7 linked regions of the Homo sapiens genome follow. The protein of the gene in region 2 interacts with the protein of the main gene of each other region in a pairwise test. Each region holds a gene or a part of one and is shown on either strand. Other genes may lie near its edges.

Region 1 (4,235 bases), on a different chromosome or scaffold from region 2:
TAGCCTACTTTTTTTTTTTGAGACAGGGTCTCACTCTGTTGTCCAGGCTGGAGTGCAGTGGCGCGATCTTGGCTCACTGCAGCCTTGACCTCACGGGCGTAGCCTACCTCAAATGTGTTCAGAACATTTACATTACCCAACAGCAAGACAAAATCATCTAAGCCAAATCCAATTTTTTTTTTTTTGAGATGGAGTCTCACTCTGTCACCCATGCTGGAGTGCAGTGGTGTGATCTCAGCTGACTGCAACCTCCACCTCCCAGCTTCAAGGGATTCTCCTGCCTCGGCCTTCTGAGTAGCTGAGATTACAGGCACTCGCCCCCACGCCCAGCTAATTTTTTTTTTTTTTTAAATCTTTAGCAGAGATGAGATTTTATCATGTTGGCCAGGCTGGTCTCAAACTCCTGACCTCAAGTGATCCGTCTGCCTAGGACTCCCAAAGCGTTGGGATTACAGGTGTGAGCTTCTGCACCTGGCCCTGTTTCTCATTATTCTCCTTACCATTGTTATTGAATGGCCTTTAGTTAATAAGCACCACTTGGGCAGACAGTGGACTGTTTTTGATGCTTTGAGGACGAATGGGGTTGATATCTGTACAGATAGACAGGAAAACAGATATCGGGCACGTTAAGTGGAAAAGATGAAGAAATGGAACAACGTATGTTGAAAGCTCCCATTTCTGGTTAAGACGTTACAAAGGAAATGCCATCTACGATACCATTGCTTTGGGCTTACAGCTGGGCAAATTATATGCACAGAAAGTTTCCTGGATTGGGCTGGGCATGTTGACTCACGCCTGTAATCCCAGCACTTTGGGAGGCCGAGGTGGGCGGATCATGAGGTCAGGAGATTGAGACCATCCTGGCTAACACGGTGAAACCCTGTCTCTACTAAAAATACAAAAAATTAGCCGGAAGTGGTAGCGGGCGCCTGTAGTCCCAGCTACTCGGGAGACTGAGGCAGGAGAATCATGCGAACCCGGGAGGTGGAGCTTGCAGTGAGCCGAGATCGCACCACTGCACTCCAGCCTGGGCGACAGAGTGATACTCCGTCTCAAAAAAAAAAAAAAAAAAAAAAAAAAAAAAAGAAAGTTTTCGTTTTCTGGATTGTAATCAACAAGGGCCAGGAAGGGTGGAGTCTTTGCGGGGTGAGAGGATGCGTGTGGACAGTGATAACAGCAGCTAGCCTACGTATGACACCCACTGAAAACCAGCGCTATACACTCAGCTCTACCCTTCTAACTTGTTGAATTCTTACAACACCCCCTAAGGCAGGAATATTATTATTCCCATTTTACTGAGGCACAGATAGTTTAGGTGACTTGCCCAAGGCCACACAGCTGGTAGGAATTTGAGGGTTTTTGTTGTTGTTGTTTGTTTGTTTGTTTTTTATGATGCAGTCTCGCTGTTGTCGCCCAGGCTGGAGTGCAGTGGCATGATCTTGGCTCACTGCAACCTCTGCCTCCCGGGTTCCAGCGATTCTCTTGCCTCAGTCTCCCGAGTAGCTGGAATTACAGGAGCCCACAACCATGCCTGGCTGATTTTTGTATTTTTAGTAGAGACCAGGTTTCACCATGTTGCTCAGGCTGGTCTTGAACTCCTGGCCTCAAGTGATCCGCCCACCTCGGCCTCCCAAAGTGCTGGGATTACAGGTGTGAGCCACTGTGCCCGGCTAGGGGGGGTTCAGTTTTTAAATGCTGTACTCTTTCTTTCTTTCTTTCCTTCCTTCCTTCCTTCCTTCCTTCCTTCCTTCCTTCCTTCCTTCCTTCCTTCCTTTCTTTCTTTCTTTCTTTCTTTTTCTTTCTTTCTTGGGACAGGGTCTCACTCTGTTGCTCAGGCTGGAGTGCAGTGGCGCGATCATGGCTAACTGCAGCCTCAAACTCCTGGGCTCATGTGATCTTCCACCCCAGTCTTAGAAAAGGTTGGGATTGCAGGCACGAACCACTATGCCTGGCTAATTTTTAAATTTTTTGTAGAGACAGAGGGTCTCACTGTGTTGCCTAGGCTGGTCTTGAACTCTTGGCCTCAAGCGATCCTTCCTCCTCAACTCAGCCTCCCAATGTACTGGGATTACAGGTGTGAGCCACTGCACCTGGCTAAATTCTGCACACCTTTTACTCTAGGGATAAAAATAATACGAAAGTGGAATGCCAGACTCCGAATACACACACCAAGTGGCCTGGACTCTTCACTGCTACCTGGCATGGGGGAGGGGAGTGCCCCAACTTCCTCTCTGTCCTTCCTGTTGCCTCAACACCAGCTGGAGTGCTGAGCAGTGCCAGCCAACCCATAATAGTCAGCAGAGAGCCTCAGGGCCAGGTCACTCTGACATTGTGGGGGTGGGGGGGTGGGGACTCCTGCCTGGGTCCTGTGCTACCCACAGCTTTGTCTACCGGAGCCTGTGTGCCACGTGCTGGACAAATCTTAACTCCTCAAGGACTCCCAAAACCAGAGGTAGGTTCACCTCAATGACTCTTGTTTCCCCGATGAGGAAATAGGCACAGCCAGCTGCAACTGACACCCACAGTCATGGAGGCCGGGGCTGCTCAGGACCACTTGCTGTGCTGCCTGCCAGCTCTCCAGAGCCCAAGATTTGGAGATGGTAATATTCTAGGGCATGGGGTTCTGCAGCGGGGACTAACACACTTTGAAATTTACCTACTTAGGGCTGGGCGCGGTGGCTCATGCCTGCAATCCCAGCACTTTGGGAGGCTGAGGTGGGCGGATCACAAGGTCAGGAGTTCGAGACCAGCCTGGCCAATATGATGAAACCCCGTATCTACTAAAAATACACAAATTAGTTGGGCATGGTGGCGGGTGCCTGTAGTCCCAGCTACTCAGGAGGCTGAGGCGGGAGAATTGCTTGAACCCTGGAGGCGGAGGTTGCAGTGAGCCGAGATTGCGTCACTGCACTCCAGCCTGGATGACAGAGCGAGACTCTGTCTCAAAAAAAAAAATTTTACCTACTTAGCTGAGTGATCTTAGGTAAATTACTTAACTTCTCTGTGCCTTATCTGTAGAATAAATATAACAATAGTGTCAAATTCAGACAGTTATTATAAGGTTTCAGTGAGGTCAGGCACGGTGGCTCATGCCTGTAATCCTAGCACTTTGGGAGGCCGTGGCAGGCAGACCACTTGAGGTCAGGAATTCCAAACCAGCCTGACCAACATGGTGAAACCCCGTCTCTACTAAAAATACAAAAAATTAGCCCCGGGCATGGTGGTGCACGCCTGTAATCCCAGCTACTCGGGAGGCTTGTGGCAGGAGTAATGCTTGAACCCAGGAAGCAGAGGTTGCAGTGAGCCAAAATAGCGCCACTGCACTCCAGCCTGGGTAGCAGAGTGAGACTCCGTCTCAAAAAAAAAAATAAATAAAATAAAATAAAACAAGGTTTCAGTGATACAGTGTTTAAAGCTGCGTGGTGGCCACTGCCTGTAGTCCCAGCTACTCAGGGGGCAGAGGTGGGAGGATCACTTGAGCACAGAGTTTGAGGCTGCAGTGAGCCGTGATTGCACCACTGCACTCCAGCGTTGGCAAGATGGCGAGACCCTGTCTCTAAAAAAAATATATATATATAAATTTGCCAGGTGTGGTGGTGCACACCTGTAGTCCCACGTACTCAGGAGGCTGAGGTGGGAGGACCACTTGAGCCCAGGAGTTCGAGGCTGCAGTGAGCCAAGATAGTGCCATTGCATTCCAGCCTGAGTGACAGAGCAATATCTGTCCCTAAAAAAAAAAAAAAAGTTGACACAAAACACAAAATGTTCAAGAAACAGTGGCTTCCAATAATAATAATTTTATTATTATTATTATTGTCAGGCACAGTGGCAATCATGCCTGTAATCCCAGCAGTTTGAGAGGCTGAGACAAGGCAGGTTGCTTAAGCCCCAGAATTCAAGACCAGCATGGGCAACATGGTGAAACCAGATGACCTCCAAAATAATAATAATAATAATAATAATAATAATAATTAATCAGGCATGATGGTGTGCACCTGTAGTCCTAGCTACTTGGGAGGGTGAGGTGGAGGGTTGCTTGAGCCCAGGAGATGGAGGCTGCAGTGAGCTGGGAAAGTGCCGCTGCAGTCCAGTCTGGGCTACAGAGCCAGACCCTGTCTCAAAAAATAGTAATAATATAGTAATAATATTATTGTGGCCCGACATGGTGGCTCACGCCTGTAATCCCAGCACTTTGGGAGGCTGAGGCAGGTGGATCACCTGAGGTCAGGAGTTCG
Region 2 (4,037 bases):
TCAGGGGTTCGAGACCAGCCTGGCCAACATGGTGAAACCCCATCTCTACTAAAAATGCAAAAATTAGCTGGGCGTGGTGGCTTGTGCCTGTAACCCAAACTACTCAGGAGGCTGAGGCAGGGGAATCGCTTGAACCAGGGAGGCAGAGGTTGCAGTGAGCCAAGATCATGTCACTGCACTCCAGCCTGGGCGACAGAGTGAGACCCTATCTCAAAAAAAAAAAAAAAAAAAAAAAAAAAGAATGGCAAATTATCTCCAGTCCAAACTTAACTCCCAGGTAAACTGACTGACTCCTATTACTAAAAGCAACAAACAGCAAACAGGGAACCTACAACCAAATTGAGTTTGGTTTCAGAGAAAACTCAGAGAACTCCCAAGGCCAGCCTTAACCAAAATCACCCAGCAGTGCCCCAAAATAATATGAAGCTATTCTAAACTGAAGCCTTCACAGACAATTTCCTGGCATACAAATGCAGTTATAGAGGAGATGGCGTGTGGGTGACATTATACACAACCACCCTGTGAGATTTAGTATCCCTATTTTAAGGGAGGAAAGTCTGAAAAACTGACTTGTCCAAGGTCATCTGCTGCCACAGTGTCACAATTCCAACCCCTCTTCTCCTCCATATCAGTGATTTTAACACCATAGGGACTGCACACTCTTTTATACAAATCTCATTTTTAAAATCTATTTGAAACTCCGTCTAAATTGTACTTAAAAATAATGGCCTCAAATAATATTAACATATAATCTGTCTATTGGAGATCACTAACGTGTTAATCTACTCTTGCCAGAATAACTGATTATGCGAAACCTGGAATAAAGGTGTTCCTGCCAAGTAGCTTGAGATAATTAAAGCAAGCTGTTTAAACAAACAAAACAGCAAAAAGTGCATCTACTTATCCATATACATCAGAACTTTTTGACACTGTGTAACTAAACCAAAATAAATATACTGAATGCTGTGTTCACCGTTTTTCTGACGGATGAGAACTTTAAAGGTAAATGCTAATACATACGTGAATTTGGAAAACAGTACCTTTTGTATATGTAGGGTCCTGCATTTATTACAGAGTTCAACCAATAGAAAAGGCCGGAAAACCACAGCTGCCAGTGGTTTTGAATTATTTTCCCCCTTTTAAAGGCCTAACTTGATATTGAGTCTTCACACAGATGGCTGATTTGAAAAATATTAAGTAAAGCAAACAACTATTACAAAGTAGGCCTTCTCATATTATGCCATTTTCTACTACAGAAAACAAATGATAAGTATGTTTCAGCCATAATAATTTTTAGACACAAATTTGTATACCTGAGAGGTATTTGTTTACAATGTTAGGTCTTCAGACTGAACAGATGGGAGCGGCATTCCTCATCAAAGGAAGACCTTAAAAATCCTCCGCCAAAATCCTGCCTTTTGCCATATGATGCAACCATAGGCTACACCTGCTTCACCAATTTGTGTACCCAATAGTCATTCTCATGGCAACACAGCCACCCAGTTTCTTGGAAGCAGCTATGGTGAAACTGAAAAATGTGCCAGGGTGAATTCTAGAGGACATGGAATGCAAGCTTACTAAATAAATATGCAAATTTCAAAATAACAACTCAGAAGGAAAACTCACTTCTAAAACATTCTTGACCATATGAAACAAAAACAGACACAGGCGCTACCACAAGCTGGAACTCACGACTTCACTATCTTTTCCTGCCCGGATGCCCTCTCCTGTGTGATGAAGAATTATGCTCGTGGGCAGTGAAGAACACTGCTGACACTTACATAATATCAGAGCAGAAAGTAAATACAGGAAGGGCCAGCTTACAGCCTCATCACGTGGTGGCCAGGGCAGGCGGTGCTAAGGGTGATGTTGACAGATGTGTCAACCAAAACAAAGCAAGGAAGTCTTGCTAATAATGGAGAGGCTGCCGTCCTAAAACCAGACTGAAGGCGACTCCTGCCTGCTTCCCTTCTCAGTCGCTCTTGGTCAGAAAGTGCACGGGGCTCCACCCCGGGACTCGGCAATGGCTGCTCGGTCCAGTGCGACAGGGAGGGGCACGGCGGAAGGTGGCCAGGGAGGAGAAGAGCCACGTCCTGCTTCTGGGTGTGGGGCCTTCCGTCCACAGTGTCTGGGCGGTCCCCAGGTTTCTCAAGCCACGGCCCCGGGTGGCACCTGCCCGCTCCTCTCCCTGCAGAGAGGCTGCGTTCAGAAACCTCATTTTGCAGCACGGATGTTTTCTTACTTCTAGCCATTGGATGCAAGCCCAATTAGGAACACCGAGTTGCCTGGCCGCTGGGGGAGAAACAGGCTTGGAGGGTGAAATGACTCGCCCAAGGTCAGGCTGCTGATTACTGACGGCTACTGGGCAACAGAGGGGCGCCCGCGTCGGCGGGGCAGGGAAGGGGAGACCACAGCCCTGGGGGAGGTGACCGGCCGAGCGATCGCAGCCGTCAGCGGGAGGAGGCCACAGGACAGGGCAGCCGGACGTGGCATCCCCAGCAGAGGGCGGGGGGCCACAGCCTAGGGGCGGGAAGTCGGGGCCGCTCTCACCGGACGCTCGGGGTAGACGCGGCTCAGGTGGGCCTTGAGGTGGCCCACACTCCAGCCGCGGTCGCCACTCAGCTCCAAGTCGCGGTGGCGCTGGTTGGGGCTCTTCACCAGGAGCGTGACGGGCTCGGGTTCGGTCTCGGACTCCATGGCGGCGGCGGCGGTGTCGGGGCTCCGCTGCGCTCCTAGGTGCCAGGCAGGCGGCGTCTCAGCCGCCCGCAATCTCTGCAACGACAGTTCACGTCTCTGGGGCGCGCGCCCCCGCTTCGGGCGCCTTTTATAGAAGCCCCGCGCCCGGCTCTGCGGACAGAACGCTCTGTGGCTGCCGCCCATTGGCTGAGGCGGAGGCACTCTCCCAACGTGGCCCAATCGGCGTCCGGATCCGGGTGGCAGAGGGCGGACCGAGCACGTGGGCACGGGCTGATGCAACCCGCCGCGTCTGCGTCACCCAGAGGCGCGGCTGTGCCCCGGGAACCCGGGTTCGGTGGCCATGTTTGGGTGCGCTGCAGGCCGCGCGGGGAGCTTGGTCTGAGACCTGCGAGGCCCCCAGCTCGGGTGGCTGAGGGCGCCCGAGGCAGGGGGTGGGGAGTGGGGTATCCTAGCAGACCCCAGTTTAGCAGTCTCTGCAAATTCTTTCCTCACAAAGCCGCACCCCCACCCTTTTTCACCCCAGGTGTCAGTGCCCACTTCCCCTTTTCCTGCCTCTGTGGCCCCACGTGGAAACCTACGGGGAAGCCCGTCCTACAGGGGAAGCCTACCCACTCGAACCCTCAAAGAACGGCTGGGCGACCCCGAGTGCAAGCCCACCTAGGAGAACTCCACGTGCTCCTAAGAAAGACAACGAAGGAGCAAGGCCAGATTTTCCTTGGGCTGGGAGGATGGAGGCATCCAGGCAGCTGTTGCCAATTTCCCTGGGCCTCAGACTTGAACGTTTGGGACATCACCCTAATGATGATTGACAAGTCAGCCACAGTCCTGCTCACACTGGAGTCCCCCTCAAAACGCGTCACTTTATAAGATACTCACACATGCACCCGTTAAATTGGGGCTGAGACGAGGAGGGCGGGGTTCTCCGATTCCTGAAGTGGGACCATAAAGGCCTCTTTATTGTAGGCGTTCCCTCCTCCTCCTCTGTAGGAAAAAAAAAAAAAAAAAAAAAGGCTTGAAAAACAAAACTGACATTGCCCCGGCTCCCTCCTTGTTCCAACCCCCTTGGGACATCTGTTTTTTCAGGTGTTGTCAGGAGCTTGTCAAGGTCAGGAAGGTAACAGGAGGAGCCTGGTCTGGTTGGTGGGTATATTCATCTGCTGCAGCTGCCATAACAAAGTGCCACAAACTGGATGGCTTAAGACGGGGTCCCCAACCCCCCTGGGCCACGGACCACTATGAGTCCCTGGCCTATTAGGAACCAGGCGGCACCGCAGGAGGTGAGCCACCAGCGAAGCTTCATCTGTATTTACAGCTGCTCCCTATCGCTGCATTACCACCTG
Region 3 (2,900 bases), on a different chromosome or scaffold from region 2:
TTTTTCTAGTCTTCATAATTTCTTCACTCAATCTCTGATTCTGTCAATGTCTTGAAATCAAGGGCCAGCTGGAGGTGAAGAAGAGAATGTGACAGGCACAGATGAATGGGAGTGAGGGATAGTGGGGTCAGGGCTGAGAGGAGAAGGAGGGAGACATGAGCATGGCTGAGCCTGGACAAAGACAAAGGTGAGCAAAGGGCTCACGCATTCAGCCAGGAGATGATACTGGTCCTTAGCCCCATCTGCCACGTGTATTTAACCTTGAAGGGTTCACCAGGTCAGGGAGAGTTTGGGAACTGCAATAACCTGGGAGTTTTGGTGGAGTCCGATGATTCTCTTTTGCATAAGTGCATGACATATTTTTGCTTTATTACAGTTTATCTATGGCACCCATGCACCTTACATTTGAAATCTATGAAATATCATGCTCCATTGTTCAGATGCTTCTTAGGCCACATCCCCCTGTCTAAAAATTCAGAAAATTTTTGTTTATAAAAGATGCATTATCTATGATATGCTAATATATGTATATGCAATATATATAGGCTCTTGCTTGATCTCTCCAGGAGGTAGTGATTATGAGAAGGGGGTGGAGAATGATGAGTTCCTTCACCAGGAGCAAAGGACGGGGATCGTGTGGAACCACTGCAGAACTATTTCCGAAATCAACTAAGTGGAGAGAGCCAGGAAGGCTGCATCAGAACCCAGTAAAGCTTCTTGTCTGGATCTGAGCTGGTTTGTTTTGTGCTTGCTTTTCCCTGCCTTGCCACTCCCCTCACTCTTCTCTTTTCCCCACAGCCTTTTTCACATAGCTCTTGGCTGTAGGATTGCCCCACTCCAAAAACCAGTGTGTGGAGGTCCAGGAGTGAGACCAGGAAAGAATGTGAAAGTGACTACACAAGGACTCCTCGATGGTCGTGGAAAAGGAAAGTCAATTGGCAGAGCCCCTGAAGCCAGTCTTCAGGACAAAGAAGGAGCCTAGAGACAGAAATGACAGATCTCTGCTTTGGAAATCACACGTCTGGCTTCACAGATGTGTGATTCACAGTGTGAATCTTGGTGTCTACGTTACCAGGCAGGAAGGCTGAGAGGAGAGAGACTCCAGCTGGGTTGGAAAACAGTATTTTCCAAACTACCTTCCAGTTCCTCATTTTTGAATACAGGCATAGAGTTCAGACTTTTTTTAAATAGTAAAAATAAAATTAAAGCTGAAAACTGCAACTTGTAAATGTGGTAAAGAGTTAGTTTGAGTTACTATCATGTCAAACGTGAAAATGCTGTATTAGTCACAGAGATAATTCTAGCTTTGAGCTTAAGAATTTTGAGCAGGTGGTATGTTTGGGAGACTGCTGAGTCAACCCAATAGTTGTTGATTGGCAGGAGTTGGAAGTGTGTGATCTGTGGGCACATTAGCCTATGTGCATGCAGCATCTAAGTAATGATGTCGTTTGAATCACAGTATACGCTCCATCGCTGTCATCTCAGCTGGATCTCCATTCTCTCAGGCTTGCTGCCAAAAGCCTTTTGTGTTTTGTTTTGTATCATTATGAAGTCATGCGTTTAATCACATTCGAGTGTTTCAGTGCTTCGCAGATGTCCTTGATGCTCATATTGTTCCCTATTTTGCCAGTGGGAACTCCTAAATCAAGTTGGCTTCTAATCAAAGCTTTTAAACCCTATTGGTAAAGAATGGAAGGTGGAGAAGCTCCCTGAAGTAAGCAAAGACTTTCCTCTTAGTCGAGCCAAGTTAAGAATGTTCTTATGTTGCCCAGTGTGTTTCTGATCTGATGCAAGCAAGAAACACTGGGCTTCTAGAACCAGGCAACTTGGGAACTAGACTCCCAAGCTGGACTATGGCTCTACTTTCAGGCCACATGGCTAAAGAAGGTTTCAGAAAGAAGTGGGGACAGAGCAGAACTTTCACCTTCATATATTTGTATGATCCTAATGAATGCATAAAATGTTAAGTTGATGGTGATGAAATGTAAATACTGTTTTTAACAACTATGATTTGGAAAATAAATCAATGCTATAACTATGTTGATAAAAGATTTAAAAACAACTGGCTGTTTTTTTACACTGTGGTGTGGAAGATTGTGTTGTGTTCACAACTTTTCACTTCTTCCCCTGTGTGATTACACACACCTGCCCTTGTGGTGTGACTTGCAGTGCGCCCTACAGGCCACACACCCCACGCCCTCCACCACTGGCTCTGCTGCTGGAATGTGAGCAGAAGTGACATCTGCCTCATCCAAGCGGAGCCTCTTGCTCAGCCACAGGAAGGCCCATTCCAGATCACACCCGTCAGCCCGTGCGCCCTGGTGAATGAGAAGACACAGGGAGCTGCAGCCACATATAACATGAGCAAGAAGTCTGTGTTTGCTGTGATAAGCCACTGAGTTTTAGGGGTTGTTTGTTAAGAAGCACAAAAACCGATTAAGACATGTGGTATATAGTGACTTCATATATAGAATCTGGAAAACTATCCATTTATTTTCAATCATGGAATTCAATATGACAAGCATCCCGGAGGGTCTACCTATGCCAGACTGGGTTGGAAACAGAAAGACAGATGTTAATGCCAGTGTCCTTTACACCTCCAAGTCCAGGGCCAGCTGTGGAGTGGGAGGGGTAGAGAAGGTCCTGTGCACAGTCACAGTGCGCTGTGCAGAGCAGGAACAGAGGCATCTGTGAAAAGTGCTGAGAGCCTGGAGGACAGAGTGACTAATGCAATGACAGTCTTGCATCATAGGAATAACAGCCACAGCAGGATTTTATTGCTGCCAAAGAAACTGCCATTTAAAAATTGCCAGCCATCCGGGAGGCTGAGGCAGGAGAATGGCATGAATCCAGGAGGCGGAGCTTGCAGTGAGCCGAGATCGGGCCACTGCACTCCAGCC
Region 4 (4,235 bases), on a different chromosome or scaffold from region 2:
AGTGCTCAGTGTGGGTACTTAGAGTTATTCTCATAAAAAATGTGAGGCAGAGTTAGTCAGGTGTGGTGATGCATGCCTGTGGTCCCAGCTACTCAGGAGGCTGAGGCAGGAGGATTGCTTGAGCCCAGTGGTTTGTGGCTTCAGTGAGCCATGATTGTGCCACTGCACTCCAGCCTGGCTGACAAAGCGAGACCATGTCTCCAAGAAAAAAAAAAAAAATTTCTAAAAGTACTTGCTGGGTTACACTAAATGAAACCTAAAAAACAAATAGATAAATAATAAAGGTTACACACAGCAGAAGCTTTGTTAACAAATTAACTTATATTAATAGTTGCTGCTGGGAAAACAAGCTGCTTGGTGACTTCCCTAAAGGGTGTCCCACGCATCTGGCGAATGAACAGACAGAGCTCCTGCTCCCGAGTGTCCTGGGAGGCACGTGGGCATGCCGCGTGGGTGGTCTGGGTGCTGCAGCGTGAGTTGTCCTGGGTGTGGAGTGTCAGTGCCTGCAGACCCACACTGCCTCCTCCTTCAGGGCTCACTGGCAGTTTTCTTTCCACCGCTTCAGTTTCCTACTTGAAGTCAGGTTTAAAAAGGAGAAGAATTGCACATTCCTCCTCAGTTTCTTAGAAACTTACCTTTGTGCCTGAGTCATTTCTAGTCCCTCTGGACCTGAGTCATATCTGTTCGCTGCTTTGTCAACCTTGTGCCCAGTTTAAGCTTTCGTAGTTGCTCCTTGTATGTGTGTTTTCAGGGTGTGGAGCGTTTTCTTTAAAAACGTCATTGCAAGCCATTACAGAAGAGGAAAGTCACATAGCTACAGAAGACATGGAAAAACAGATTTAGTGCCTGAAGTTTCTAGGAAAACTGGCAGTGCTGACAGCACTTATGATCACGCCCTAAGTGGAATCATCACCTGTGTGTCTCCTGCAGGCTGCTGTTGTCAGGAGGCAGCCTCTCCACCCCCTGCCCCGGCTGCCATTGTGGCTTCTACCCACCATTTTTCCTCCTAGATCTGTTTGGGGAGCACCAGTTCCTGAGCAGGGGCTCTGGCTGGTGGGCCTGTGCATCACCTGACCTAGAAGCATGTGGACAACTGAGAGTGGAGAGGCAGTTCCTGCAAGGAGCAAGGCGTGCAGTGTAGATGAAGAACCAGAAGCCTGGGTTCACTGCATCTCATCTGCCTTGCCTGGCTAGGCTGAAAGCTCCAGGGGCAGACTGAGCCTGCCCAGGCTCTCCAGGAACAGCTGATGATTCCTTGGGTGTCTTGCTTAGTGCTCCTGGCTTGACTTGACCTGGTCTTCTTGGCTCAGAAGCCCCTGCTTATTCGTGGGTTTCTCCAGGGGGCCGGGGAGGAGGTCGCACAGCCTGAGATGATGTATGCGTGCACTTGTCGTATCCCAGGGTTGTATTTCTAGATAATTTATCAGCAAAATGGAGGGGCTGGATGACTCTGCATCCCAGGCATGAACTTCATAACCCAGCAGTGGAAGGATGGTCCCAGAGTGGATGGGGACCAGGGTGGTTACAGTGTGTATGGCAGCTCCCGTGCATAGAAAAGTGACATCGGGCCAGGCGTGGTGGCTCACGCCTGCAATCCCAGCACTTTGGGAGCCTGAGGTGGGCGTATCACGAGATCAGGAGTTCAAGACCAGCCCGGCCAGCATGGTGAAACCCCATCTCTACTAAAGATAAAAAAAATTAGCCAGGCGTGTGGCGCACGCCTGTAATCCCAGCTACTCATGAGGCTGAGGCAGGAGAATTGCTTGAACCCGGGAGGCAGAGGTTGCAGTGAGCTGAGATCGCGCCATTGCACTCCAGCCTGGGCGACAGGGCGAGACTCTGTCTCCAAAAAAAAGTGACATCGAATACCATGAGATGCCTGCTGTTGCCTCTCAGCATCTCGGTGGGAGGACAGCACTGCCAGCGGCTCTGTCTGTTGCTGCAGGGGTGGCCCACATCTGCTGTGTCCACAGTGGTAGCCGCTCACCCACGTGACTGCCAAGCACTTGAAAGGTGGCTCATGAGACTGAAGAACTGAAGTCTTTATTTAATTCAAATGTAAGCAGCCATATGCGGTGACTGGCTACTGTAAGGCGCTGAGCGGTCACAGAGGTTTTCATTTCAGTCTTTCCATTCACACTCAAGTCTCCAGCCTTATCCAAAAGTTCATTGATGCCAAATCTTAGACCACATGGTTCGTGCGGGGAAAGTGGCTTCCAGGAGGCTGATGACCACAGTGGATAATACACCAAACACCAGAACATGGGACGCTTCTTTCTTTCTTTCCTTCTTTTCTTTCTTTTCTTTTCTTTCTTTCTTTCTCTTTCTTTCTTTCTTTTTCTTTCTTCTTTCTTTCTTTCTTTCTTTCTTTCTTTCTTTCTTTCTTTCTTTCTTTCCTTTCTTTCCTTTCTTTCCTTTCTTCCCTCCTTCCCTTCTTTATTTCTCTCTCTCTCCTTCCTTCCTTCCCTTCCTTCTTTCTTTTCTTTTTCTTTTCTTTCTTTTCTTTTTTTTGAGATGGAATCTCACTCTTGTCACCCCGGCTGGAGTGCAATGGCATGATCTCGGCTCACTGCATCCCTCCCGTCCTGGGTTCAAGCGATTCTCCTGCCTCAGACTCCCAAGCAGCTGGGATTATAGGCGTGCGCCACCACCCCCAGCTAATTTTTGTATTTTTATTTCTTTTTCTTTTTTTTTCTTTTTGAGATGGAGTCTCACTCTCCCAGGCTGGAGTGCAGCGGTGTGATCTCAGCTCACTGCAACGTTAGGATCACTGCAACCTCCGGCTCACTGCAACCTCCACCTCCTGGGTTCAAGCAATTCTCCTCTCTCAGTCTCTCAAGTAGCTGGGAGTACAGGCGCCCACCACCACGCCCAGCTAATTTTTGTATTTTTAGTAGAGACAGGGTTTCACCATGCTGGCCAGGCTGATCTCGAACTCCTGACCTCAGGTGATCTGCCCGCCTTGGCCTCCCACAGTGCTGGGATTACAGGCGTGAGCCACCGCGCCTTGCTTGTTTTTCACTTATTTTCTTTTTCTTACTCTCTGCAGGTCTCCTTTTTCTCTAGTACACATGTGAACCCGGCACAGGAACTGGATAGAAAACCTCTCGGCAAGGCCACATAGTCATGCACAGAACAGATGTTTGCTTAGCGCCTGCCCAAGGCCTCACCCTTAGTGAACTTGGGACAGTCCAAGAGTGTCAAAAGCACTGCCCTGAATGCTTTAGATCTAGTCTTTTCTTTGATCCTGAGAATGCCTTTGGAAGGTGTAAACAGCGGCCAGCTCCACAGGGACCAGCCTGCAGAAGGTGGGCTGCGAATACACCTGACCACAGCATCTTCCCTGTGTGTGTGGGCCTGCGTGTGGGTGGGGTGCAGGAGGAAGGGTGACAGTGCATGGGGCGAGAGTGCTTTCCCTTGTTTTTGGCCTGAGCAGGGGGTGCTGGGAGTTGCCATTCGTGGAGGTAGAGGCAAGTAGAGAAAACCAGGAGTTCCCTTCTGTGCAGGTGAATCTTGAGAGAACATTGTCTCGGTCAGGTTCCTAGCAGGACAGACGCACACTCAAGTGAGGATTGTAGGGGGCCTTGTTTGCAGAGGGACTCATTACAAAGGAGGGGCCAGCCCAGGGCCTGCTGCAGAGTGCAGGAGCAGGCCGCCCATGTCCCTCTAGCAGGAATGTGTCAAGCAGGCCACATGGAGGAGTGGAGCCTGCACAGGGCACATGGGGCAGGGAGCGTCCCAGCCTCTCTCCTTCCTGCAGCCCCACCCTTGCTTGCTCCCAGAGGGAAGCTGGATTTGTGACTGGCCAATGTAGCAAGACCCCACCTCTACAAAAATAAAAATACTAGCTGAATGTGGTGGTATGCATCTGTAGTCCCAGCTACTTGGGAGAACAAAGCAGGAGGATTGCTTGGATCCAGGAGTTTGAGGCTGCATGAGCTATGATGATACCACTGCACTCCAGCTGGGCAACAGATCAAGACCCTATCTCTTAAAAAACAACAACAAAAAAACCAGGGAAGTCAGATACCAGGGCAGGAAGGGCACCTTTGGGAAATGAACCAGCTGCGGGGGGGCTCTGTTTGTCACCTGTGTCTGCAGTTCAGGTGAGCCAGGCTGGGTACAGACGTGGGAGATCTCAGCTGCAAGTGACATTTAACCCCTCGGTGCCCAGGTATCAGCATTGACTGGGAGAATCAAAGTCAGAGTCCTGGGCCACCTTGCTTGGTCATATC
Region 5 (4,235 bases), on a different chromosome or scaffold from region 2:
AGCAAGCTATTAGCTTTCTTGGGTTCTCTTTCCTCACAGCCCACCCCTTCCCCTCCCGACTCCAGGCTGGGGGTCCTTACCGTGCATAGAGCTCCTTCCAGGTGGATGTCACAGGTTCATCAGCAGCAAGCGCCTCCCCTGTCCCACTCTGCAGCACCTGGAGCAGGGCATCGGCCTCCCCAAAGCCATGGTGCAGTTTCGCTTCTGTGAGTTCCACGCTGAGTGAGAGGTTCTGGGCCCCAACTTGCAGGGGGATCTGCTCCCTCTTGGACCACTCAGAATCCTGGCTGTGGTCATTAGGAGGTTGTGGGGGACTCTGTTCCTGCTTTTCAGAGCTGAGATCACCGCTGGCCCCCAGCTCCTCCTCAGTCATGTCCAACCCCCCAGGTGAGCCCTTCTGAACCCCACACCAGTTACTAAATTTGTTATGCACCGGGAGGTCCCTCAGACTGTGGTGCTGGTGCTCAGGGGCCATGCACATCTGGCAACTGAAGCACAGTAACTCCTCAGGTTGGCAGGCCTGAGGGAGGCCCAAGGCAGAACCTCGGAGCCCTGCAGTATCAGTCAACTCAGAGACAGGGCAGGGGCTGAGGTGCTGGAGGCCTCCCCATGAAGAAGGTCGGTCCAGAGTGCGTTGTGGTTCCCCTGGAGATGCTGAACTCTCACCTCCATTTTCTGTCCTGCTCTGCCACTGACTTGGCTCCCTACCGCTCAGTGGGCAATGCTCCGGGGAAGCCACCTTCTCAGGCACAAAGCTGTTGCCCAGCCTTTGGCTCCTGTGCCTCAGTGGTGGTGGCAGCAGTCTGCTTTGGACCCCGATAGTTGTCCTGGGCTGAAGCTGCTGAGGGTGCTGCCCTAAGAAACTAAATTGGAGTTTTGGACTCTGCTGTGGGCTGTGTGGGGAGTGCAACTCAAGGAAGGATCTCCCATTACTCCTTTGTAAGGAACTTCTACCTCTCTGGGAGCCACCTAACTCGTCAGTGGTTTGGGAATAATTATCCATTGGAGTCCTTGGGGCATCAACAGGGTCTGGGCTGGAGTCAAGCTTCTGGTGGCCTTCAACAGGGTGAGTTGAAGGGGCTGAGAGGGTCAAAGAGCCTGGGGAAAGACCCGGCTCTTGGGTGCTGGCACTAAGAGTGAGGATTGGGGAGGAGGCCCTGTCCACGAACAAAGCACTTGTGGGGCCCAGCTTCTTCTGGACCCTGGAGTCCCCAGGATACTCGGAAGTACTGGGAAAGAGCCCTGGGGAATGAGGGGAGCTGGGACTGGGACTGCTGACAACTAAGCAATATGACTCCTCTGGCTGGGAGCTGGGAGGCAGGAAAGCATCAGAAACTGAGGGGCTCACAGAAGGAAGATGCTGCCCAACGGGGGCTTTCTGAAACCTCAAGTGGGATGAGGGTATTGAAGGGCTCTGGGGCTTGTAGGGAGTGCTTTCTTCCTGAAGATAGAGGAGCTGAGCCATTTTCTGTGCTGTTTCCTCTGCCTCTCTCTTCTGAGGTACCCCTGGCACATCTCCCTCTTCTTGAGACACAGTCGAGGTATCTGAGCCTAGCCCTTCAAGGATCACATTGGCTCCCTGAGGTTCAGCCTCTGAAGTCTGGAGGCACAGGGTGGGTAAGGTGAGGTCAGTCTGGCTGCCCTCATCCACAGTGGTCTGAGTAGAGCCATCCATCATCAGGGCCTGTGGGGCTTTATCTGGGATGTCCCTCTTGGTGTTCTGCTCCCTTCTGGCCACATCTGGCTGGGAGAGACTCCCAAGCAGCTCTGAGGTACTGTGCAGGAGCTGTGAGAGGTGGAGAGACAGATTGTGCATGCTGGTCCATGAGGCCAGATCAAAGGCTGATACTGCACTGGCTTCAGGCTGAGCAAAGGAGATGTCAGTGCTGCTCCAGTGGCGCCTGCTGCCGAGGGTCTGTGTGCCCTGTTCGAATGTGTTCGTCCTGGTCTGTCCCACAGGGCAGCCTGCCTCTGATGGATACAGCAGCATAATCTCATCCACTGGACCTGCAGCACTTCCTTTGGCCAAGGGGGGCTTACTCCTCAGACAGTCTGCTTCACCAGAAGGGCCCCTGAACTGAGGCCTTCTGTCATGACCCGAAGTGGGGGCTACTCCTTCAGGGCTCGTCGGGATGTGGGGGTCTCCTAAGGCAATTGAAGAACTCCCTCGGAATACTTCCCAGGCCTCATTTGAACCCTGGGCATTCTCAGTGCTGCTGTGTGTGGTTGACAGATCACAAATATTGGCGTAAGTGCTGAGGTGGGAGTGGAAAGGGGAGTTCTGGTCTTCTAGGCCATTGTCCATGCTGGAGCACCGGGCCACATTTGATAGTGTCAGCCCCTGGGGCTTCTGGCTGCAGGAAACATCGACTGCACTGCCAGACATATACTGCTTCCAGCTGATACGTGCAGGCTCCTCCGGACGCCACGGCAGCGCATAGGGACTGATGTCACTGGAGCCAAAGTGCAGCATTCCTTTGTCCATCTGAGAGCACCAATTTTCTGGCCTAACCTGGACACCCAGTTTCTCTCGCTTTCCCTGTTGGGCTTGTTCCAAAGTACCAGACATCCAGCTGGTCGTGAAATCAGGGGTTGGCATGTGTGAGAGAGTGGAAGGCATTGGATAAGGAGGGGTGGCAGGCTTCAGGTGCCTGTGATCGGTAGTCCCATCATCCAAGCGAGATGAGGCTTTCTGATTGCTGTCCTCAGCCTGCAGAGATGTTCTTGCCACTGACTTTCCTGAGGAATAGCCCCTGAGATGTGGGTTCCACAATCTGTTAGGCCCCTGTGTATCTTCGTCTGTAGGGGAAGGAGGCTCCACACTCAAGTTCAGCTCCTGAAGAGAACGAGAAGAGCCGACAACTGAGAACTGTGGTGTGGGGGAGGACCTGGAGTGTTTGGGGCCAGAGAAGATTGTAGTCACAGGAAGTGAGCCCCTGTGGTTGGGTGCTGGCTGCTCTCTGCCAGTGTAGAGGTGGCCACTCCTCTGAGCAGCAGGCTGCGGTGTTTCATTTTGCCTCAAGGACACAGTGGCTGGGTCTTTGAAGCCCTGTGATAAAATCTTGGACACAGGAGGCTTGGCCACAGCCACCTCCTCTCTCCCAGCATCTAAAATCTGACAGCCATCTAAGCCATCTTCATCAGGAAGGGGATTCACACCCTGGGCGAAGCCTTCTCCACCACCTGAAGCCTGGTCTCTGTGCTGCTCTTCTTCCTGCCAGGGACTGTCTTCCTGGGGGCTGCAGGTATGTTTTAACCTTGCTACAAACTTGGCTTGGGAATCCAAGCGATTGTGATCCCTCAACTCAGTGGAAAATTGTGGCTTTTCCAAAAAACATCTAGTGGTATTTTCTAAACATTCATGCTGTGGCTCTACCACCAACTTGCTCTCAGCAGACCCTTCACTTAAATCCAGGGTGTGTGGTCCCTGAGTTGTTGCAGGTGGTTCTGGATTGGTTTGACACACCTGTGCATTCTGGTCACCTACAGAGCTGTCCCTAAACTGCCTCAGGGGCTCAGAGTACATGCCTGCAGGGAAAGAGGCAGCCTCAAGTTCTGTGCTTGCTTGCTTCTCAGCAACCTTTTTCTCAGGAACCCCTATTAACCCCACGCTTCCATCAGTAGCTGAGTGGCTGAAGGAACCTGTCCTCACGTCAGGAGCAGAAGGGGATCTGCAGCCTTGAGCTCGAGATAGGACAGCAGCCACAGTAGAAGGCTCACAAGTGCTGCTCTCTGTTAGCCTAAATTCCCTGTTAACATCTTTGGGCTCAAGGCCATGTGTCAAGTGCACATCAGGTCCCCTAGAGATCTCTCCTGTCTCATCCATTTCATAGGCCCTGGAAGGTACTACACAGGGTGGGTGGATAGTATGTGGGGCAGCCTTGAAAGGCTCCTTCCCTAGGTCACCATCTCTAAAACACAGTAAAGTAGAGGAATGGGAGGAATAAGCATGAGTAGCAACAGGTTGAGAACTGCATGGCTGTCGGCAAGGAAGAGTTCTGCTCTCTTTCCCTCTAGACGGGCTGAGAGTCCTGCTGCCTTCAGGGTTCCTTGAGAAGACAGGGCCATCTAAAGCTTCCCTTGGGTGTCTACATGGGGCTTCCTCCCCAATTCCCCCAGGATTTGCGCTTGGTCTTTGATCTGGCAGTGGAATTGGCCTGGAATGTTTGCTGCCAGCCCTGCAGACTTCTGTCAACCCAGACCCAACACTCTCCTTACACTGCACACACTGCTGT
Region 6 (4,235 bases), on a different chromosome or scaffold from region 2:
TTTCTCAATCTTGGAACTATTGACATTTTGAGCCAAATAATATTTGTTTAAAGGGGTTGGGGGAAAATGTCCTGAGCATTATAGGCTATTTAGCAGCATTCCCAGCCTCTATGCACTAGATACCAATAGCATTCCTCCCAGTGTGGCAACCAAAAATGTCTTTACACATTGCTAAGTGTCCCCTTTCGGGGAGAGGGGAATTGTCTCTGTTTGAGAGCCACTGAAATAGACAAATCCAGCAGTGGTTAATAAAAATCCTTGAATATAATCTCCATATCTCTCCAATCATCTATCATTTTCAGTATTCCTTCCATTTTTCTTATCTGTTTGACGTAGTTTCCATGGTGTCAGCCTATCTTCAATTTCTTTCTTTAAAGTGACAGTTTCTCTTTCAATGAGGTTGCAGTGGCTGTGGCAAGGATCAATAACAGAGGGAGGAAAAGGAAGGATACAATGGCAGCAGAGACTAAAAGCTTGATTCATGGTGCGTTGGATTATTAGAGCAAACAAAAAAAGACCCTGAATCCTGAATCCTGGATGCCAAAGGGTTCTTCCCAACTGAAGCCAAATCTACATAATAATAATACAATACATTAAAAAGGGAAATACTTGGCTAGTCAATTCTCTGGTTTTCAGAAACTCGAGGAGCCCACTGGCTTGACGTTATTTCCGTTCAACTGATTCCTTCATTTGAAGAAACAATATGAAAATAAATATGAATTTAAAATGTAAAAGTGCATGTTGAAGTAACTGTAGGTAAGGGAATCTCTATAAATGAATGCTTTAAATATGGAAGATTACTTTGGGGGGGTAATGACTGAAGTTATTTAAACAGGAAATTGTTTTTACGAAGGATAAGTCAAATATAAATACTGCTGGCAATTTGCTTCTTACTAACTTATAAGTTTTTTGGTTTTTTTTTTCCCTCATGCTTTTTTTCCTCCTTAACTCTCCAAAATGTTGAGGTGGCATCTATGAGGCTAATCATACAAAATAATTCTTTTAAGTGCTGGGGTCTAATATTGATAAATTTACCATGTAACTAACATTATTATTACTGAACAAGATATCATAAATCTAAAATCCAAAATATGAAATTTGCAAATGCGTTTATAATTTGATTTCCATTGATTGAGCCATTTTTAGAAAATCTCATTGGAAAACTACAGCAAATACTGTAAGAAAAATATAAAGGATAAAAATAACTAGTTGTATGTGAATCCGTATAATCCTAATCCTATATTTATTTAGACGACCAAATAAAAAATCTCTACGTGGCAAGATTCTATATAATGCCACCACTTAGATAATAGTTCCTGACATGATTATTATGGTCTAGAATTAGATGGTGAGATGTGGCATGGCAACAGCCACCTACCTCCTTCTGTCAGATTCTGTAAGCTCGTTTGGCCTCTATTTAGTTAGCCACTACATTTCTGTCACAAAGATTACTATAATTCTATTGATAAGAGAATTTTGAAGTTAAATAATGTTAGGGAGAATTGACAATTTGAGGAATATGGAATATGTAATTGTTTCAGTAATAGTTTTTAAAATATCGTTTTTTCCCCTTTCATGGGGTCATAGGATAATTGCAGACATCCTCACTTGGTTATAATTTGAATATCATCCTTTAGCAGGCATTGGATAGAAGGTTCTATTCTCTAGGGACTGGCCCAGAAATCACTGGTGCTATGTGAGTATGTTAATCCTGTTTAGGATTCCAAATAAATAAAACAGCATTCCTTTCTGCTGAGAAAGTCAGGAGTTCATTTTCTATAAGTTAACATTTCATACATGGGTCAGGCAAATTCAGGTTGAAATAGAAAGTCCTAAACTTCTATTTTTTAATCTTAAAATTCACCTGACTTTAATAAACTTGGTCCAACTAGATAGTCCATTATTTAATTTGATGAAACCTCAACTTTACAGTGACGATGGTTTCTTAAACAGGTTTATGTTTTAGGTAGGATATTCTGTTGATATAAAAGGCTATTTAGGAGAAAATCAGATTGGTTTAAACATTTCGCATATAGGATTATAAGTGCACTAAATCCTTATAGACCTTGATATCCCCAACGAATGCAAAGGACACAGTGAGGAGGGGTGAAACGTCCATTTTCATGGCTGTCTCTGGCTAGCTTTAGTGAAAGTCCTGTAGGTTTTCCCTATAAACAATATAGAACAGGGATGTACAAAATAGTGGCATAACAAGAAGAAAAATGGTGTGACCTAGTTGGGGTTTCTGTTTGTTTGCTTTCTCTTCATGGTGGGAAAAAGAAAGGCAAAAAATAAGCATTTATTACATTCCAATCCTCTAAATAGGACCGTAACAAAAGAATAAAATATGCTTAACACTCCGGAGACAATTTCTGCATCCTTCTTTGATTTTCTTTTTTTATGTCCCCATTGTATAGTGCCTATTTCTTTATGTTTAAGTCTCCATGTTTACCTTGTAACTGTGGCATTTCCTTCTCTTAAGGACACATGAGAACAACAACAACAAAAGTAACAAAAAAGGAACAAGGTTATTCCTCTTGTGCAGAGACTGATAAAATTGTAGAATCAGAAGCCCTTCTTCAAGAGATTATGAGAAACAGTGTATAGTTTCTTAAATCCACGATCCCAACATGTTTCTTTCATTGTCTCATTGCTCCTAATACTGACAGTTTATAAGGTGCAATTTTTGCAAACTGGAGCCTAGGCGTGATAAGTGTGTCACTGCTGGGCTCCTGAATTGCACGTTTTGTAATCAGACTATAAAGTGCAATGGCAGAGATTTTAAAACTAGGAGCTCGTTTATCCCTTTTATTCTTCTCAAGCTCCCCTTGCCCACCTTCTATCTTTTTCAAAGATATTTTACCTTGTAGCGCCTATGTTCTTATAATGACACATGAGAAGGTGTTTAAAGGTCTTCTTGAAGGTGGCATTGCAAAGTGCATAGCAGGCAGGGTTGATAGTGCTGTTGATGTAACAAAGCCAGTAACCAATTGTCCACACAGTGTTGGGGATGCAAGGTGCACAAAAGGTGTTAATGAGCACCATGACATTGTATGGGGCCCAAGTGATGATGAAAGCCAACAGAATAGCCAAGATTGTCCTGGTGACTTTCTTTTCCCGGGAAGGAGGAGGCTTCTTTTTTGCAGGCTGCTTAGTCATCTTCACAATCTTGCGGGCTACAATATTCTGCTTTTCATCTCCATTCTGACCTGAAGACCCCACTACCTCCACGGTGGTATTAGTTGGGGTACATGAGTCACTTTTTGGGGTCTTGGTGCCAATTCTGATGCATGTTTGCTTAGAGTTCTCATCTTTGGAATGGCCCAGGGAAGTGGAAACTGTGTTTTCATCCTGGGTTATTTCATCATCTCTCATATTAGAGGCAACAGCACTGACTGAGGTGGAGTCATTGGAGCTCTCCTTCTCCTCTCCCTGAACACAGTTTTCAGTCACAGGATCCCTGGGGGCTTTGCCATTCTGGATTTTGTTGTGCTCCAGGCCATCGTCACTGCTGGGCATGTTGTTATTGTTTGGCTTCACTATCCTTCCTTGTACCAGACTTGGAGAAACGGGGTCTTGGTTGGCAACAGGCTCCTTCTTGTCCTTCTTTATCCTGCTCTTGCTGGCTCGGGATATGTGCCAATATAGCACAGTCATGATGATCACTGGCAAATAGAAGGCTGCAATAGCCGTACCAAAGGTGACAGCAGCATTGGAAAAAAACTGAATGTAGCACTCCCCATCCTCCACAGTTCTCACCCCTACAATGAACTGCCAGAAGAGAATGGCTGGAGCCCAGAGGATGAAAGAGAGGACCCAGGCAGCTGCAATCATCATACCTGCCATTTTTGTGGTCCGCTTGACTGGGTAGGTCAGAGGTTTTGTGACACAGAAGTACCTGTCAAAGCTGATGATGAGCAGATTCATAACTGAGGCATTGCTGACCACATAGTCCAGGGCTAGCCAAAGGTCACACACCACAGGTCCCAAAGGCCAGTAACCAATCACAGTGTAGAGGGTGTACAAGTTCATGGAGAAAACACCTATGATAAGGTCAGCACAGGCCAAGCTGAATAAAAAGTAATTGTTGACGGTCTGGAGGTGGCGGTTGACTTTAATGGAAACCATGACTAGGATGTTCCCGATAATGGTCACCAAACTGAGGGATCCAGCCACCAGGACAATAAACACCACTTCAAATGTCTTATAAGGACTTGTAAGAGCCAGGCTATTGT
Region 7 (4,235 bases), on a different chromosome or scaffold from region 2:
TAGTCAGACTTTGATACCACCACATAAGACATGACTGGCATAAAGAAAATTATCCTTAAACCGTGAAGGACAGTGTACAGGCTGTGAGTGAACTACAGGGATTCTTGGTTAGTCTAACACAGCCACTACTTCCTCCAGTTAGAACAGATGACTAGTCTTTCAGCTGAATATCAGATGTGGTTGACTTGAATTCAGGAGCTACCTTGTATAAGAATATCTTCACGTGTACTTTTTTGCATTATATATGCACACGATCAGTTTAGTCTGTAATTGTTTACATATATCCAGTAACACAAGAGCAATCTATTTATAGGACTTAAAAAAGATTACAACAGGATATATATATTGATACCTCTGACTTAAAAAAAGGAACGTGATACCTAAAAACTGAAAAGAAAATATGGCAAAACTGTGGTATGAATAATGTGGAAATGCATTTTTTTCTTTTTTGTGAGACAGAGTCTCACTCTGTTGTCCAGGCTGGTCTCAAACTCCTGGGCTCAAGCAATCCTTGGGATCCTCCTGCCTTGGCCTCCCAAAGTGCTGGGATTACACATGTGAGCCACTGTATCCAGCTTGGAAATCTATTTTAACATCTTTATTTCCAAAATTTTGATGGTAAATACTACTTTCTTAACCAGGATAAACTCCACATTCCTCAATAAACTACATGTTATATACATATTAAAAAGCAGTCTTTTTAATATGCTCAAGCCTGTACTCCCAGCTACTCAAGAGGCTTGAGGCTTGAACCCAGGAGGCGGAGGTTGCAGTGAGCTGAAATTGTGCCACTGCACTCCAGTCTGGGCAACAGAGCAAGACTCCATCTCAAAACAAAAAAGCAAACAAGGAGTCTTGCACAGGGTAGAATGTGACAGTAGACACTAAAAGCATTTTACTTTTGAGGTGTGTGTGATATCTGTGCACACACACACCTACAAGCAGGGAGAAATCACCTTATATAAGATTTACCAAAATCAACTGTATTTCCTTTTTTTTTTTGAGATGGAGTCTTGCTCTGTCGCCAGGCTGGAGTGCAGTGGCGCCATCTCAGCTCACTGCAACCTCTGCATCCTGGGATCAACTGATTCTCCTGCCTCAGACTCCCAAGTAGCTCAACTACAGGCGCGTGTCACCACACCCGGCTAATTTCTGTATTTTTAGTAGATACGGGGTTTCACCACGTTGGCCAGGATGGTCTCGATCTCTTGACTTCGTGATCCACCCACCTCGGCCTCCCATAGTGCCGGGATTACAGGCATGAGCCACCACGCCCGCCCAAAATCAACTGTATTTTTTTTTTTTTTTTGAGGCGGAGTCTCACTCAGTCACCCAGGCTGGAATGCAGTGGCGCCATCTCAGCTCACTGCAAGCTCCGCCTCCCAGGTTCATGCCATTCTCCCGCCTCAGCCTCCGAGTAGCTGGGACTACAGGTGCCCGCCACCAAGCCTGGCTAATTTTTTGTATTTATAGTAGAGACGGGGTTTCATCGTGTTAGCCAGGATGGTCTCGATCTCCTGACCTCGTGATCCACCCGCCTCGGCCTCCCAAAGTGCTAGGATTACAGGCGTGAGCTACCGCGCCCGGCCAAATCAACTGTATTTCTATACACCAGTAATAACCAGAAAAGTGTCATTTAACGAAGACCCTTAACCACAGCAACTTGAAAATAAACGAAACCTAGAAGTAAAACTAGTAAAATTTGCAAGACCTTTAAGGAAATCGATAGTCTTTACTGAAGATCTAAATAGGCTGGGTGTGGTGGCTCACACCTGTAATCACAGCACTTTGGGAGGCCTAGGTGGGTGGATCACGTGAGGTCAGAAGTTCAAGACCAGCCTGACCAACCTGGTGAAATCCCATCTCTACTTACAAAAATTAGCCAGGGGTGCTGGCAGGCGCCTGTAATTCCAGCTACTCGGGAGGCTGAGGCAAGGAGACCCGGGAGGCAGAGGTTACAGTAAACCAAGACTGCGCCACTGCAATCCAGCCGGGTGAAGGAGTGAGACTCTGTCTCAAAGTAAAATAAAATAACAAATAGAGACAGGCCAGGCACAGTGGCTCATGTCTGCAATCACAAAACTTTGGGAGTTGAGGCGGCAGATCACCTGAGGTCAGGAGTTCAAGACCAGCCTGACCAACATGGTTTCACCAAACCCCATCTCTACTAAAAATACAAAAATTAGCTGGGTGTGGTGGCGGGCACCTGTAATCCTAGCTACTCAGGAGGCTGAGGCAGGACAATCGCTTGAACCCAGGAGCCAGAGGCTGCAGTGAGCCGAGATCGTGCCACTGCACTCCAGCCTGGTGACACAGCAAGACTGTCTCAGTAAATAAATAAGCAAATAAATATACAAATAAATGGAGAAATAAAATCTTCATGGGGAAAAAAAGATCACTCAGTATCATAAAAATGTAAATTCTCCTGAAATTACTTCATAGATTTAGTAAATATTCAATTGGGGTTTTAAGGTTTTGAGGTTTATGGGGTTCATAAACTAACTCTAATACAGAAGAGCAAGAACTGAAAAACAGTCAAAATCCCTGAAGAAAAAATCTGCGTTACTAGCTATGAAGAATTAGCATAAAGACACAATAATTTGAGGTTGGGTGTAGTGGCTCATGCTTGTAATCCCAGCAATTTGGGAGGCTGAGGTAGGTGGCCACTTGAGGTGGCCAGGAGTTAGAGACCAGCCCGGCCAACAGGCAAAAATCCATCTCCACTAAAAATATAAAAATTAGTTGGGTGTGGTGGCATGTGCCTATAAGTCCAGCTACCTCAAGAGGCTGTGGTGGGAGAATCACTTGAACCTGGGAGGCTGAGATTGAGCAACACTCTGTCCCTAGGGGTGGAGGAGGGAAGGCCGGGCGTAGGGGATCACACCTGTAATCCCAGCACTTTGGGAGGCGCCAAGGTGGGCAGATCACCTGAGGTCAGGAGTTTGAGACCCGCCTGCCCAACACGGTGAAACCCCATCTTTACTAAAAAGACACAATTAGCTGGTGGCGCACACCTGTAATCCCAGCTACTTGGGAGGCTGAGGCAGGAGATTCGCTTGAACAGAGGTTGCAGTGAGCCAAGACTTGCGCCATTGCACTCCAGCCTGGGCACCAAGAAGGAAACTCCGTCTCAAAAAAAAAAAAAAAAAAAGGCTAATCTTTTTTAAAAAGGAACAAACCATAAGATACCTAGAAAGAAGTCAGGCAAAGGCAACCTTAGAAAACAACTCTCAACATCAATTCAATCTCTTTAAAATGCTCTGTGGTTTAAAGTTCTGCCAGATGACCTGGTTATGCTTTTACTGACCTTAACAACCCCACACTGCTTAAAGAAGTCTGCCAGATCATCTAGAGTCACACTGTCATTTAATCCTTGTACATAAATTGCACTGTTGTCAGAGTCTTCATCTGGATCTACAGGTGGGCCTTTCAGAGACAACAAGACAGGAGAATTATTATCATGTATCTATAGGGGTTTCTTAACTACCTGATCACTACTGCCCAAGGATATTCATCATAAATCTAAGAAAACTACCAAGCATACTAAGAAGAATGCTATCAAACTTTTGGTTTACTTCACTTAAGGCAATTATGAGTAGATGCTCACATAGGATTTCCCAAACTGTCCTTGACAGCAAGAATATCACACTGGTCTATAAGGCTGCTGAACTCTACGCATGCATTTACCTCTGTACCATTAATTTACAAAGCACGATATGAAGCACAACTAGAATTCAAAATTACCTAGATCAAGATCTGGTCCTTCATCCATGGGTCCTGCCAACCAGGAAAGATCATATAAAATATTATTAGTGCACGTCTTGCAAGCTACAAACCTTACAAACACACATAGCTATCTACTATACCACCATTTGATGGGGATTCATTAAACTCAAAATGACCCGCACTGCTAAAATGGAGCAGTGTCTCTTTAACATTTGTGAAAGGTTTGCTAGGGTTTGCTTTTTTCCTTTGCTGGTTTGCTTCTAAACCATTAACCAAATACACTCTCAATGCTTATGTGCCAAATCAGTGTTAAATTTAAGTCAAAATTTTTCCTCTAAATAAACCAAATTTAAAAATTTATTCTCCCCCATATTACAGAAGCAGTTACTCAATACTTCAAGTTACCCTTTGTTTTGTAACCATAGGTTAACCTTATTAACCCCTAAGACAATGCCGGCAGTACCCATTAGTCTCTTTTGTATAGATCATTTTTAAACCACTTATGAAAC

The links.
Region 1: the proteins of HERPUD1 (region 2) and C5AR2 interact in a two-hybrid assay, tested with the Homo sapiens proteins (one large-scale study listed by BioGRID and IntAct).
Region 3: the proteins of HERPUD1 (region 2) and CCR2 interact in a two-hybrid assay, tested with the Homo sapiens proteins (one large-scale study listed by BioGRID and IntAct).
Region 4: the proteins of HERPUD1 (region 2) and IMPA2 interact in a two-hybrid assay, tested with the Homo sapiens proteins (one large-scale study listed by IntAct).
Region 5: the proteins of HERPUD1 (region 2) and STARD9 interact in a two-hybrid assay, tested with the Homo sapiens proteins (one large-scale study listed by BioGRID and IntAct).
Region 6: the proteins of HERPUD1 (region 2) and CHRM2 interact in a two-hybrid assay, tested with the Homo sapiens proteins (one large-scale study listed by BioGRID and IntAct).
Region 7: the proteins of HERPUD1 (region 2) and EWSR1 interact in a two-hybrid assay, tested with the Homo sapiens proteins (one large-scale study listed by BioGRID and IntAct).

The regions. Positions count from the first base shown.
Region 1 is NC_000019.10:47,334,718-47,338,952, forward strand, and holds part of C5AR2 (C5a anaphylatoxin chemotactic receptor 2), read left to right. Parts: intron 1-2,377; exon of another isoform or gene 2,378-2,452; intron 2,453-4,235.
Region 2 is NC_000016.10:56,930,905-56,934,941, reverse strand, and holds the start of HERPUD1 (homocysteine-responsive endoplasmic reticulum-resident ubiquitin-like domain member 1 protein), read right to left. Parts: upstream 2,801-4,037; 5' UTR 2,698-2,800; coding exon 2,551-2,697; exon of another isoform or gene 1,648-2,550; coding exon of another isoform or gene 1,627-1,647; intron 1-1,626. UniProt on the Homo sapiens protein: Component of the endoplasmic reticulum quality control (ERQC) system also called ER-associated degradation (ERAD) involved in ubiquitin-dependent degradation of misfolded endoplasmic reticulum proteins.
Region 3 is NC_000003.12:46,358,879-46,361,778, forward strand, and holds the end of CCR2 (C-C chemokine receptor type 2), read left to right. Parts: 3' UTR 1-798; coding exon of another isoform or gene 799-982; 3' UTR 983-2,062; downstream 2,063-2,900. UniProt on the Homo sapiens protein: Key functional receptor for CCL2 but can also bind CCL7, and CCL12. Also transduces signaling mediated by CCL13.
Region 4 is NC_000018.10:12,005,284-12,009,518, forward strand, and holds part of IMPA2 (inositol monophosphatase 2), read left to right. Parts: intron 1-3,054; exon of another isoform or gene 3,055-3,126; coding exon of another isoform or gene 3,127-3,308; intron 3,309-4,235. UniProt on the Homo sapiens protein: Phosphatase that can use myo-inositol monophosphates, myo-inositol 1,4-diphosphate, scyllo-inositol-1,4-diphosphate, glucose-1-phosphate, beta-glycerophosphate and 2'-AMP as substrates in vitro.
Region 5 is NC_000015.10:42,690,188-42,694,422, reverse strand, and holds part of STARD9 (stAR-related lipid transfer protein 9), read right to left. Parts: coding exon 81-4,235; intron 1-80. UniProt on the Homo sapiens protein: Microtubule-dependent motor protein required for spindle pole assembly during mitosis. Required to stabilize the pericentriolar material (PCM).
Region 6 is NC_000007.14:137,014,891-137,019,125, reverse strand, and holds part of CHRM2 (muscarinic acetylcholine receptor M2), read right to left. Parts: coding exon 2,860-4,235; 3' UTR 1-2,859. UniProt on the Homo sapiens protein: The muscarinic acetylcholine receptor mediates various cellular responses, including inhibition of adenylate cyclase, breakdown of phosphoinositides and modulation of potassium channels through the action of G proteins.
Region 7 is NC_000022.11:29,291,679-29,295,913, reverse strand, and holds part of EWSR1 (RNA-binding protein EWS), read right to left. Parts: intron 3,778-4,235; coding exon 3,745-3,777; intron 3,427-3,744; coding exon 3,308-3,426; intron 1-3,307. UniProt on the Homo sapiens protein: Binds to ssRNA containing the consensus sequence 5'-AGGUAA-3'. Might normally function as a transcriptional repressor. EWS-fusion-proteins (EFPS) may play a role in the tumorigenic process.